2 separate regions of the Homo sapiens genome follow, and region 1 is linked to region 2. The links come from fine-mapping of genetic effects on gene expression. A gene starts in region 2. The other region holds a variant in brackets. All regions are shown on one strand. Distances are between the middles of the regions. Region 1 overlaps GABRE (gamma-aminobutyric acid type A receptor subunit epsilon). Region 2 holds the start of PRRG3 (proline rich and Gla domain 3).

Region 1 (4,000 bases), 270 kb before region 2:
GTCCTCTCTGGCTGTGGTCTGGAGGTCTCCCTCCATCCTTGCCATGTGCACCTATCCACAGGGTAGCTCACAATATGGTAGCTGGCTTCTTTCAGAGTGAGGAAGAGTATGAGAGAAGGTGCTCAAGATGGAAATCACGGACTTTTTATAATCTAATTTTAGGAGTGACATCCCATTGCTTCTGTGGTATTCTCCTCATCAGATGCAAATCATGAGGTCCATCCCAAGTCAAGTGTAATCCCTGTCAAGGGATTACAGAAGGGCACAAACACCAGGAAGTGAAGAGCACTGGAGGACATCTCAAGAGTCTGCCGGCTACACATGGTCATGATGTTCTTCTGTTAGAGCAACTCCTAGAATTGAGTTGCTGAGAACTAACAAGAACAGAAGCATGAGAGCAGATAGATGTTTTTGAGTTTCTGTCTACATTTTAAAATTGGTGGGGTTTTCTTGACTCTTCCCTTGATAATCAGATTTACTTTTTGCTGCTACCAGTGCGTTTACCACTATGAGAATTGTAGTCTCCTTTTAGTCTTGCAATTTACCTTTTAAAAATGGGTATGAATTTAGCAATTAATTTTGCTAGCATTGTTTATAAACTAAGAAGCACTAAGTTCTGTGCAAGAACCAGAGGTTGAGGGCTTGTGGTCCCACCATTGTTGTCACTGTTGACCCTTTCAGGTCATTGGTGTAGGAGTGGGGAAAGTGGCTCACGATGCTATTCTAGCTGGGCAGAGAGCCTCCTACAGCAGTCTCTGCCTATCCTCTTCAGCATGCCAAAAGCCAAATGTAGTGCTCAGTCCACAGTAACCTCATGGCTCCCAGAAATTTGCATAGCTATTTATTTGTTCCTTTCTTCTAGTTCTCTGCTCCTTTGGCTGACTAAGGCACTGCCAACCTGATTTGGAAGTAACCGGTCTAATTTCCACAAGCTGGTTTGCCCCTTCTTTTCTAGCATGTCAATCTCCACCCATTTGGTGGTGGCTAAATTTCCTTAGGTGGAGTGGAGAGAACCACACACTGACAAATGGAGCAGGGGGCGCCAAGATGCTTCGGTTTGCTTTCTGGGTGAGACAGAGCATCCTGTAAAACTGAAGAGTAGTGGAGAATTTGTGACTAAAATCTCCTTGCTGTTTGGGAAGCCAATTTCTATCTACAAGAGCCCTTGTAGCAGAGCAGTAGCCCCACTCACAGTAGCTGAATGCGCTGTCTCTCCTTGCTCCATGGCTATTCATGCTGCCAGCAGTGGCCTCACCTGACAATGCTTGAAGGATATAGTCTAATAACCCAGCAGTCACCAAACCTAGCATGGAACACAGGACTGGTTCAGAAAAGAGACAGCAACTTTATTTTCTTTGGCCAGTAAGGTGGCACTTTAGCCTGAGCCAAGTGTCTTTTGAAAATTCCAAACCCTCACATGTGGTGTTAAATTTTCCTGAAATGCCTTGCCTTCTACATGGTTCCAAATAGTTCTTTAAAGCTGTGGGAGGTCCCTGTTCTGTGGTGTACTTGGTAAGGAGGGGACACACGTCTCTGCCACATAGTCACAGAACATACCAGTACCCAGTACATTCTTGTCTCCTTGGATCCTCATGACAGCCTGCATGGAAGCCAAAGCTGCCGTTAGGATATGGATCCCTGTTTTACATTTGAGGAAGCTGAGACTTCTCAGAAATGTGAGTCCCAGCATTGGGTACATAGTTGGTGTAGTTGCTTGAGGGGAGTTTCAACACCTTTCAGTCAGATGTTGTTTAGAAAGCAGGCCTTGTCCTCCGGGAAGGAAACCTGAGTGCACAGTT[G/T]TGTAACACCCAGTCTGAGATTAAAAGGCAATGAACAATCTGGGAATCGCTGCCCATCATAGCATCGATAGTTGCTAACGCTTTTTCTTGCTGTGGTAATTATCGCAGTTGATTCTAGTTCCAAAACACTGAATTTCTAGAGTTTCGGCTGAGCTAAAAGGGATGTACATCGCAAGCTCCTTTGTCAAACTGGGGAAAAAGTGAACTGTTAGTTATCGGTTGATATGTAATGAACTTACAGTTGTCGAATAGAAATTAAATGCTTATTTGAAACACTTCATAACATAGAGCATAAACACAGTGTGAGTGCAGAGGGCAAGGCTTCCCACTGGCTACCAAGCAGTTCACGAGGCCTGGGAATGAAGGAGGCTCTGCTGGCCAAGTTTAGACTGCCAGCCACTTGGGACAGTAGAAACACTTGGAAGACATTTGTGGAGGCAGGTGGGGCAGGTCGGGGTCAGAGGCTCTCATTCAAATGGGAGCCAGGCTCTGCCAGCTCTTTTCTGTCTGCTTCTCTGGCCTACTCCAGGGAACATTCTCAGTCTTCCCTTCCATGGCTGGCCCCCAGCAGTTTGGTGGCTGCTTTTACAATCTTTTGTCCTGGCCAGCAAAGGCAATCAGGGATTTTCTTGATTTCTTCCCCGAGGGCTGTGCCCGCCTCCATGGTTGTGGGTATTCATTGTTTGATGCACAAGAAGTCAGCGGAAAGACCTAGGGATTCTGCAGAGAAAATTGGACCTTGGTACCTAAAGAGATTGTTGGTGCAAGTGAAAGCCATCCCAGGGCCAGGCTGCCATTGACTATTTGTGTGACTTTGGATAGCCCCCTTTCTCATAAAGCCTTAGTTTCCTTATCTCTAAAATAACTCAGAGTTCTGCCTTGGCCTGCTTGTGGTACTTGCTGTTCGAGCTGCTTGGAGTTCTATTGCAGTAGGGTTTTTTTCTCCCTTCACCACCAGTGGTGCACATTTCTAGCTTCTTCCTATTCAATATCATTGTTGATGTTTAACAGACATTTTATGGGACAGACAATATCTGGAGACCAAATAATCACGGATATATCTATGCACACGAACACACACATTCAGAGGTTACAGGTGCTTATTTGAAAGGAAAAACAAAATAAGCAAAATAAAAAAAGATTCTCCTTGTTTAAAAAACATGAGACTAAATAGAGGTTTCTCTTGTGACTCAAAACACTCCTTTCCCCCCCAGCTCCCCTGAGATGGAGTCTCGCTCCATCACCCAGGCTGGAGTGGAGTGGCACGATCTTTGCTCACGTCAACCTCCGCCTCCCGTGTTCGAGCCATTCTCCTGCCTCAGCCTCCTGAGTAGCTGGGATTACAGATGCCTGCCACCATGCATGGCTAATTTTTGTATTTTTAGTAGAGATGGGGTTTCACCACGTTGGCCAGGCTGGTCTTCAACTCCTGACTTCGTGATCCGCCCTCCCAGAAGGCTGTAAAACCTCCCAGAAGGTTTTAAGGAAGCATAAAAACAACTGGATAGTTGTGGTGACACACAAACCTTAAACATGTGCCTCCCAAAGTGCCGGGACTACATGCTTGAGTCATGGCGCCTGGCCTCCAAAACACTTCATTTTTATTATAATTCTGGAGAATGAAGGATTGGGGTTAATTAACACTGGTGCTCCCCAAATAAAAGCTGAAAGGGGAAACTCCACTGTATGCAATCAATGGTGTGTGTGCTTGTAAATTTTTAAAACAATTTTGAGCTGGGATCTTTGATTTACTATGGAAATGTGGGGACTGAGAGGGTGTTGACCTGGCTGGAGTAGCATCACAGCCTACACAGGAGCAATAAGATGAAGAGCCCAGCCCATGGAATTAAGCCACCATCGCCTGTCTGTTTCTAGATGAAATGTATCCTCTGAGACTGTGATCTAGTTGGGAATTATATTTTATTTTGGAACACCTGGAAATAGAAAACTCCTACAGCCAAACTCATGCCACCTTCCTCTGTACAAACCTAAGTGGATTCCAAAGGGTCCATCTACTTGATAAGCCCATCACAGAATAGCATGGAACCTTTGCCCACTGGTAAAGGGAGGGTGTCAATGTCAGCTCTGGAAACAGGGCAGTTGTTTTGAGGAGGAGGGCACTTACAAATTATTTATAGTCTCCCATTTAACAAAGAGGATAACAGAGAAAGATACGAGTTTTAGCCAAGGTCACAAGAACA
Region 2 (4,517 bases):
CACATTCTAGAGCCCTTGCTGAGCTGTCCACATCTGGGAGCAATCACCCCACTGCTCCCCTCCCCAAGCAGAAGCTCTGGTTTGATGACTAACTGGATGCAAGACACGTGAACTGTGGAATCCATTGAGCCCTCCTTTTTGCCTAGGCTGCCAGGAAGTTCAGCGTCACTATTGCCAGTCAAGCACAGGCACCCTGGAAGCCCAGCTGTTAAGCACATATGCTTCTGTCCTGCGATGTGGTATACAGCTTTCTATTTATGTTTCCAGTGTCCTATTGTGCATTTATAATATGCCACCTAATCCTTTTGGCAAACAGGTAGGATATAAATCAATAATTTAGGCTGGTCGCGGTGGCTCATGCCTATAATCCCAACACTTTGGGAGGCTGAGGCGGGCGGATCACCTCAGGTCAGGAGTTTGGGACTGGCTTGACCAAAAAATGGTGAAACCCCATCTCTACTACAAATACAAAAATTAGTTAGGCATGCTGCGGTGCATGCCTGTAGTCCCAGCTACTCTGGAGGCTGAGACAGGGGAATCGCTTGAACCAGAGAGGCGGAGATTGAAGTGAGCTGAGATTGCGCCACTGCACTCCAGCCTGGGTTACAAAGCCAGAAAGAAAGAAAGAGAGAAAGAGAGAAAGAGAGGGAGAGAGGGAGAGAGGGAGGGAGAGAGGGAGGGAGGGAGGAAGGAAGGGAGGGAGGGAGGAAGGAAGGAAGGAAGGAGAAGGGAAGGGAAGGAGGAAGGAAAGAAGGAGAAGGGAAGGGGAGGGAGGAAGGAAGGAAGAAAGAAAGAAAGAGAGAAAGAAAGAGAGAAAGAGAGAAAAGAAAGAAAAGAAAATTAAAGGTAAAACAGCAGATCTGACATCTATTTGTGGAAACGCCACATCAAGGGGCTTTCTCTTTTGAACCCTGCAACAATCTCCCTCAAAACTATCAACATGTGAATTTGTCAACAGATGGCCTGCCTTGTGAGACAGTTGGCCCTCAATGTTTGTCAGAACCAAGATGGAATATGATCTCAAAATTCTGCTTGCATTATGGATACCTGAGCTTTATGTGGTGAGGGTGTGGATATAGTATGCCTCATGGCAAGGATTTTTTGCTTGAAGAAAAATGGAGCTGTTGTATCTGGGTTTGAGAAGAATGCATATAGTCTTAATAAGGGAAGAGAGAAAAATATGCTTATCAAAGGAAACTGCAGTGGTTTTTTAAAAAAATGGAGAAAAATTTACATAATAGATTACATATATCCATCTTTTGTCCCCCACACACCTAGCCTTGGTCAAAGGTGGCTATATGTCACACCTATCATAGACCCGAATACATGTTATCCTGACGCACCTGCTAAAGTCACCAGTTCATTTTTAAGCTTCAGTCGAGCCAGGAACACCCCCAAAACAGTTCCCATGGCATGGCCCACTCCATTAGCAATTCTGTAGCCACCTTCACTGCTGCTGCTGCCTGCCACGAGGCCTCTTCCCCCTCCCTCCCCAAAATGTAGCGCCTGCTTCTTCCCCTATAAATACACCATCAGTAGACAGTTACTATGGCAACAATAAGGAAGCAATCGTGAGGGCTCCACGACAAAGAATGATGCTGCAGCCACACATGTATATGTCCCCCATGCCCCTGGTGGATACTGTAAAGCTGACTGTAGGCGGAAGGAATTTTTAACCCACTCCCCGCAGGAACACAGCTGAATCCTGACAGCCTGGAAAGGAAGGAAGGCAGGGAACTGGCCACCACAAAGACCTTGCTTAACTCCACCCCAGACTGAAGCTTCTGAATCTCAGGCCTCTGGGACACAACTCCCAAAGTCCCTCACATGAAGCCTGGTGACCACCAGAGCACCTGGTGTCCCAAGACATGGCCTCCAAACCACTTCTCCAAACCCTAGACTTTATTTCCATCCCTCAGAACTGATCGCCAGGAAAGGGTTCTCCAAATCGCATGACTCATCGACCCACCCAGTGACACGACAACTCCCAAATTATGCTCAAACTCAAACTCTGGGGCCCCCTTGTCCCTTTCCACTCAGGCCAGCCCTGAAAGTGCCTGTCCTCGCCCACCTTCGCTGGACACCAGCGCCCTGACCCAGCAACACTCTTCTCCCGGAGCTGTTCAATACGCCCCATCCCCTTGGCCCGGACAGGCCTCTAGATCTTCCCTCCTCAACAATGCCCTGCACCCAGCTCGTTGGCCCTGGATACCGAACCGTGCCCTCGGGACTGGGACACCCAACCCAAATGGCCTCACCGTTCTCCGGGCCCAGAAGGCGGCCGCCCTGTTTGCGCACGCAGCCCGCCACCTCGCTGCTGCGCCTCTTCCAGCAGGGGCCCTGTCCCCGCCCACCTGCTCCCCGTCGGCCAAGCCCCCCGGTCCGGCCCAGCCGTCTCCTCCCTCCCTTCCTCCCCTCCCCGCTGCCCTCCCACCGCCCCGGGCACCCTGTCGCCCGCCCCTCCAGGGCCGAAGTGCGCCTGGAACCCCCGCCCCTCGCAGCCGGGCGCCCAGGCCCGGCCCATTACCTCGGCACCCCCCTGCCTGCCCCTGCTTTCCTCTGGGGGCTCCGCAGCTGCCCGCCCCCCACACCCCGCCGTTCCAGGGCTGGCCTCGCGCCCCGCGCCTCGCGCGCCACGACCGCAGTGCCCCGATCGCCAGGCCGCAATCGTCGCGCTGCCCCGCGCACCGGGCCGCCGGCCGCCTGGCCGAGTGGAGGAAGGAGGGGTGGGGGCGACGGAGTGGGCCGAGGGGGTTGGGAGAGCGGGCGGGCAAGCCGGGCCGGAGGGGCGGCGGCGCGCACCGAGCACCGCGCGCCCGCGCCCCACTCTGCCGGCGCCGCCCCTGCCCCCGCCCGTGCCGCCGGGGGGCGGGGCCTGACTGGCGGGCCTGGGGCACACAGAGGACCCTTGGTCAAAGCCCTGGTCCAGTCGTGACCCAAGGCGTGGGCCCTCGGAAGATACGGCGTAGCAGGGAGCTCCGGCGGCCGCTCCCAAGGCCCGCGCGCCAGGCGTCCCTGCGCAGCCCAACCCGCGTCCTGTCCCCACCCCCCGGGCTCACCTGCCATTCAGGCCCGCCGGGCTCCTGGGGCCAACGAAAAGAGAGGGGGGCTAGCCTGCAACCTAGGCCTGCCTTGCCAGGGATCCACAGGGCCCTCAGAAGAAGGACCGAGTCGAGGCCGCGTTCCGCCAATGACTGGGTGACCTTGGCTTCTTCACTTACCTACCCCCACCCTGCCCCGGGAAGGCAGGCTTCTCTCCTGCAAAGTCCGAGAAATGGGGAGAATTCTGCCTCCCTCGCGAGGCTGCAGCGATTTGAAGGAGGAAATGGGTTTGGAAAACTCTAAGGCTCAGTAAGGGGAGAAGGAATCTTCTGCGACTGCAAGGAGCGCTAGATGGGGGCTCCTTCGGAGGCCGCACTGTGAGAAGTTCAGCATGGCAGGACAAGACGCATAGCAGAGATTACACTAGTCCAGGAGGAACCACATGACAGGTCCACTGCTAAGAGAGGGGCAAAGGGGTTCCGGGTGGGCTGAGGTTCTGGGTCTAGGAAAGCCTCCCTCGGAGAAGGGGATGCTGGGTTTTTAGGGTTCCTTTTTGTTCTCTGCACATCTAGAACCCGGCCAGGCACTGGGGTTGGCGTCCTCTTCCTCCCTCCACCCCAAGTGTTGCTTTTGATGGGAATGAGTCTCAGAAGGCGGTTCCAGAACCACTCCCACCCCTATCCCAGGGCGGGTATTAGCAACCTGCCTTGCCAGGGGGCGGAAGAGGGGTGGGCGAAGGCCTTCATTGCCACCGGCCGCCTCCCCTCCAACCCCCAGGGCCTGGCTCCCCTAGCTCCCCCGATGCCTGCCTCTACACTTCTCTCCCCGCATGGTGCTTTCCCTTCCATTTCTGCCTCCTGTTAGAGTTCTTCCCTAGCTTGCTTGCTATTTCACGGCTGCAGGAATCTTCCTTACCCACGACAGCTCTTCTATGGCCTTCCCCCCATGCCTCCGGAGCCTGTGGGGCAGAATTCCACAGACTCTTCTGGAACTAACCTCTTGAGTTTCCTAGCCCACCAGCATGTTCCCATCGTGATCTTAACACCGCATAGACCCTTGTGCACTTGACTGTTAAAAAAGCAGCTCTTCCAGTATGTGCACAAGGGTCTATGGCTTCTGCCCTCCTTCTGGCACTCCCACTTTAGCTTCTGGCTCCAGCCACATGAGGCTACTTCTACTTCCCACTGCCCAGAATGCCTTTCCTCCCACTGTGGACCTGGAGCACTTGCATTCATTCTTCCCACACAGTGCGCATGACATCTCTACTGTGAGGTCTTGCAGGATCCTTCCTGCACCCCAGTCCGCCATTCCACTCTCAGGACTATCTGCAGAGACTATGAACATGGGGGCCTCGGTGGATAGCAAGGTGGGGGAGGAGGAATAGCAGTGCCTCTGGAGCGTAGTGCCTGCTGCACCTCTTGGTGGTACTACATAGTAGGCTCTATTATCTCCAGCAAGTGTTTGACCTCTCTGCA

Evidence for each region. PIP is the estimated chance that this variant, and not a neighbour inherited with it, causes the effect.
Region 1: its variant is the best candidate, but not a certain one, in a credible set for the expression of PRRG3 in kidney cortex (GTEx, PIP 0.77).

What each region holds. Positions count from the first base shown.
Region 1 is chrX:151,964,171-151,968,170 of GRCh38, reverse strand. The region is part of intron 3 of GABRE (gamma-aminobutyric acid type A receptor subunit epsilon); the gene reads left to right. Among named protein-coding and RNA genes, the nearest start is that of MIR452, 6.5 kb to the right of the region's middle. The variant G/T (reference allele first, on the strand shown) is at 1,800.
Region 2 is chrX:151,693,286-151,697,802 of GRCh38, reverse strand. It overlaps PRRG3 (proline rich and Gla domain 3), which reads right to left and starts at 2,345. Exons shown (of 4, transcript NM_001372163.1): 1 at 2,259-2,345.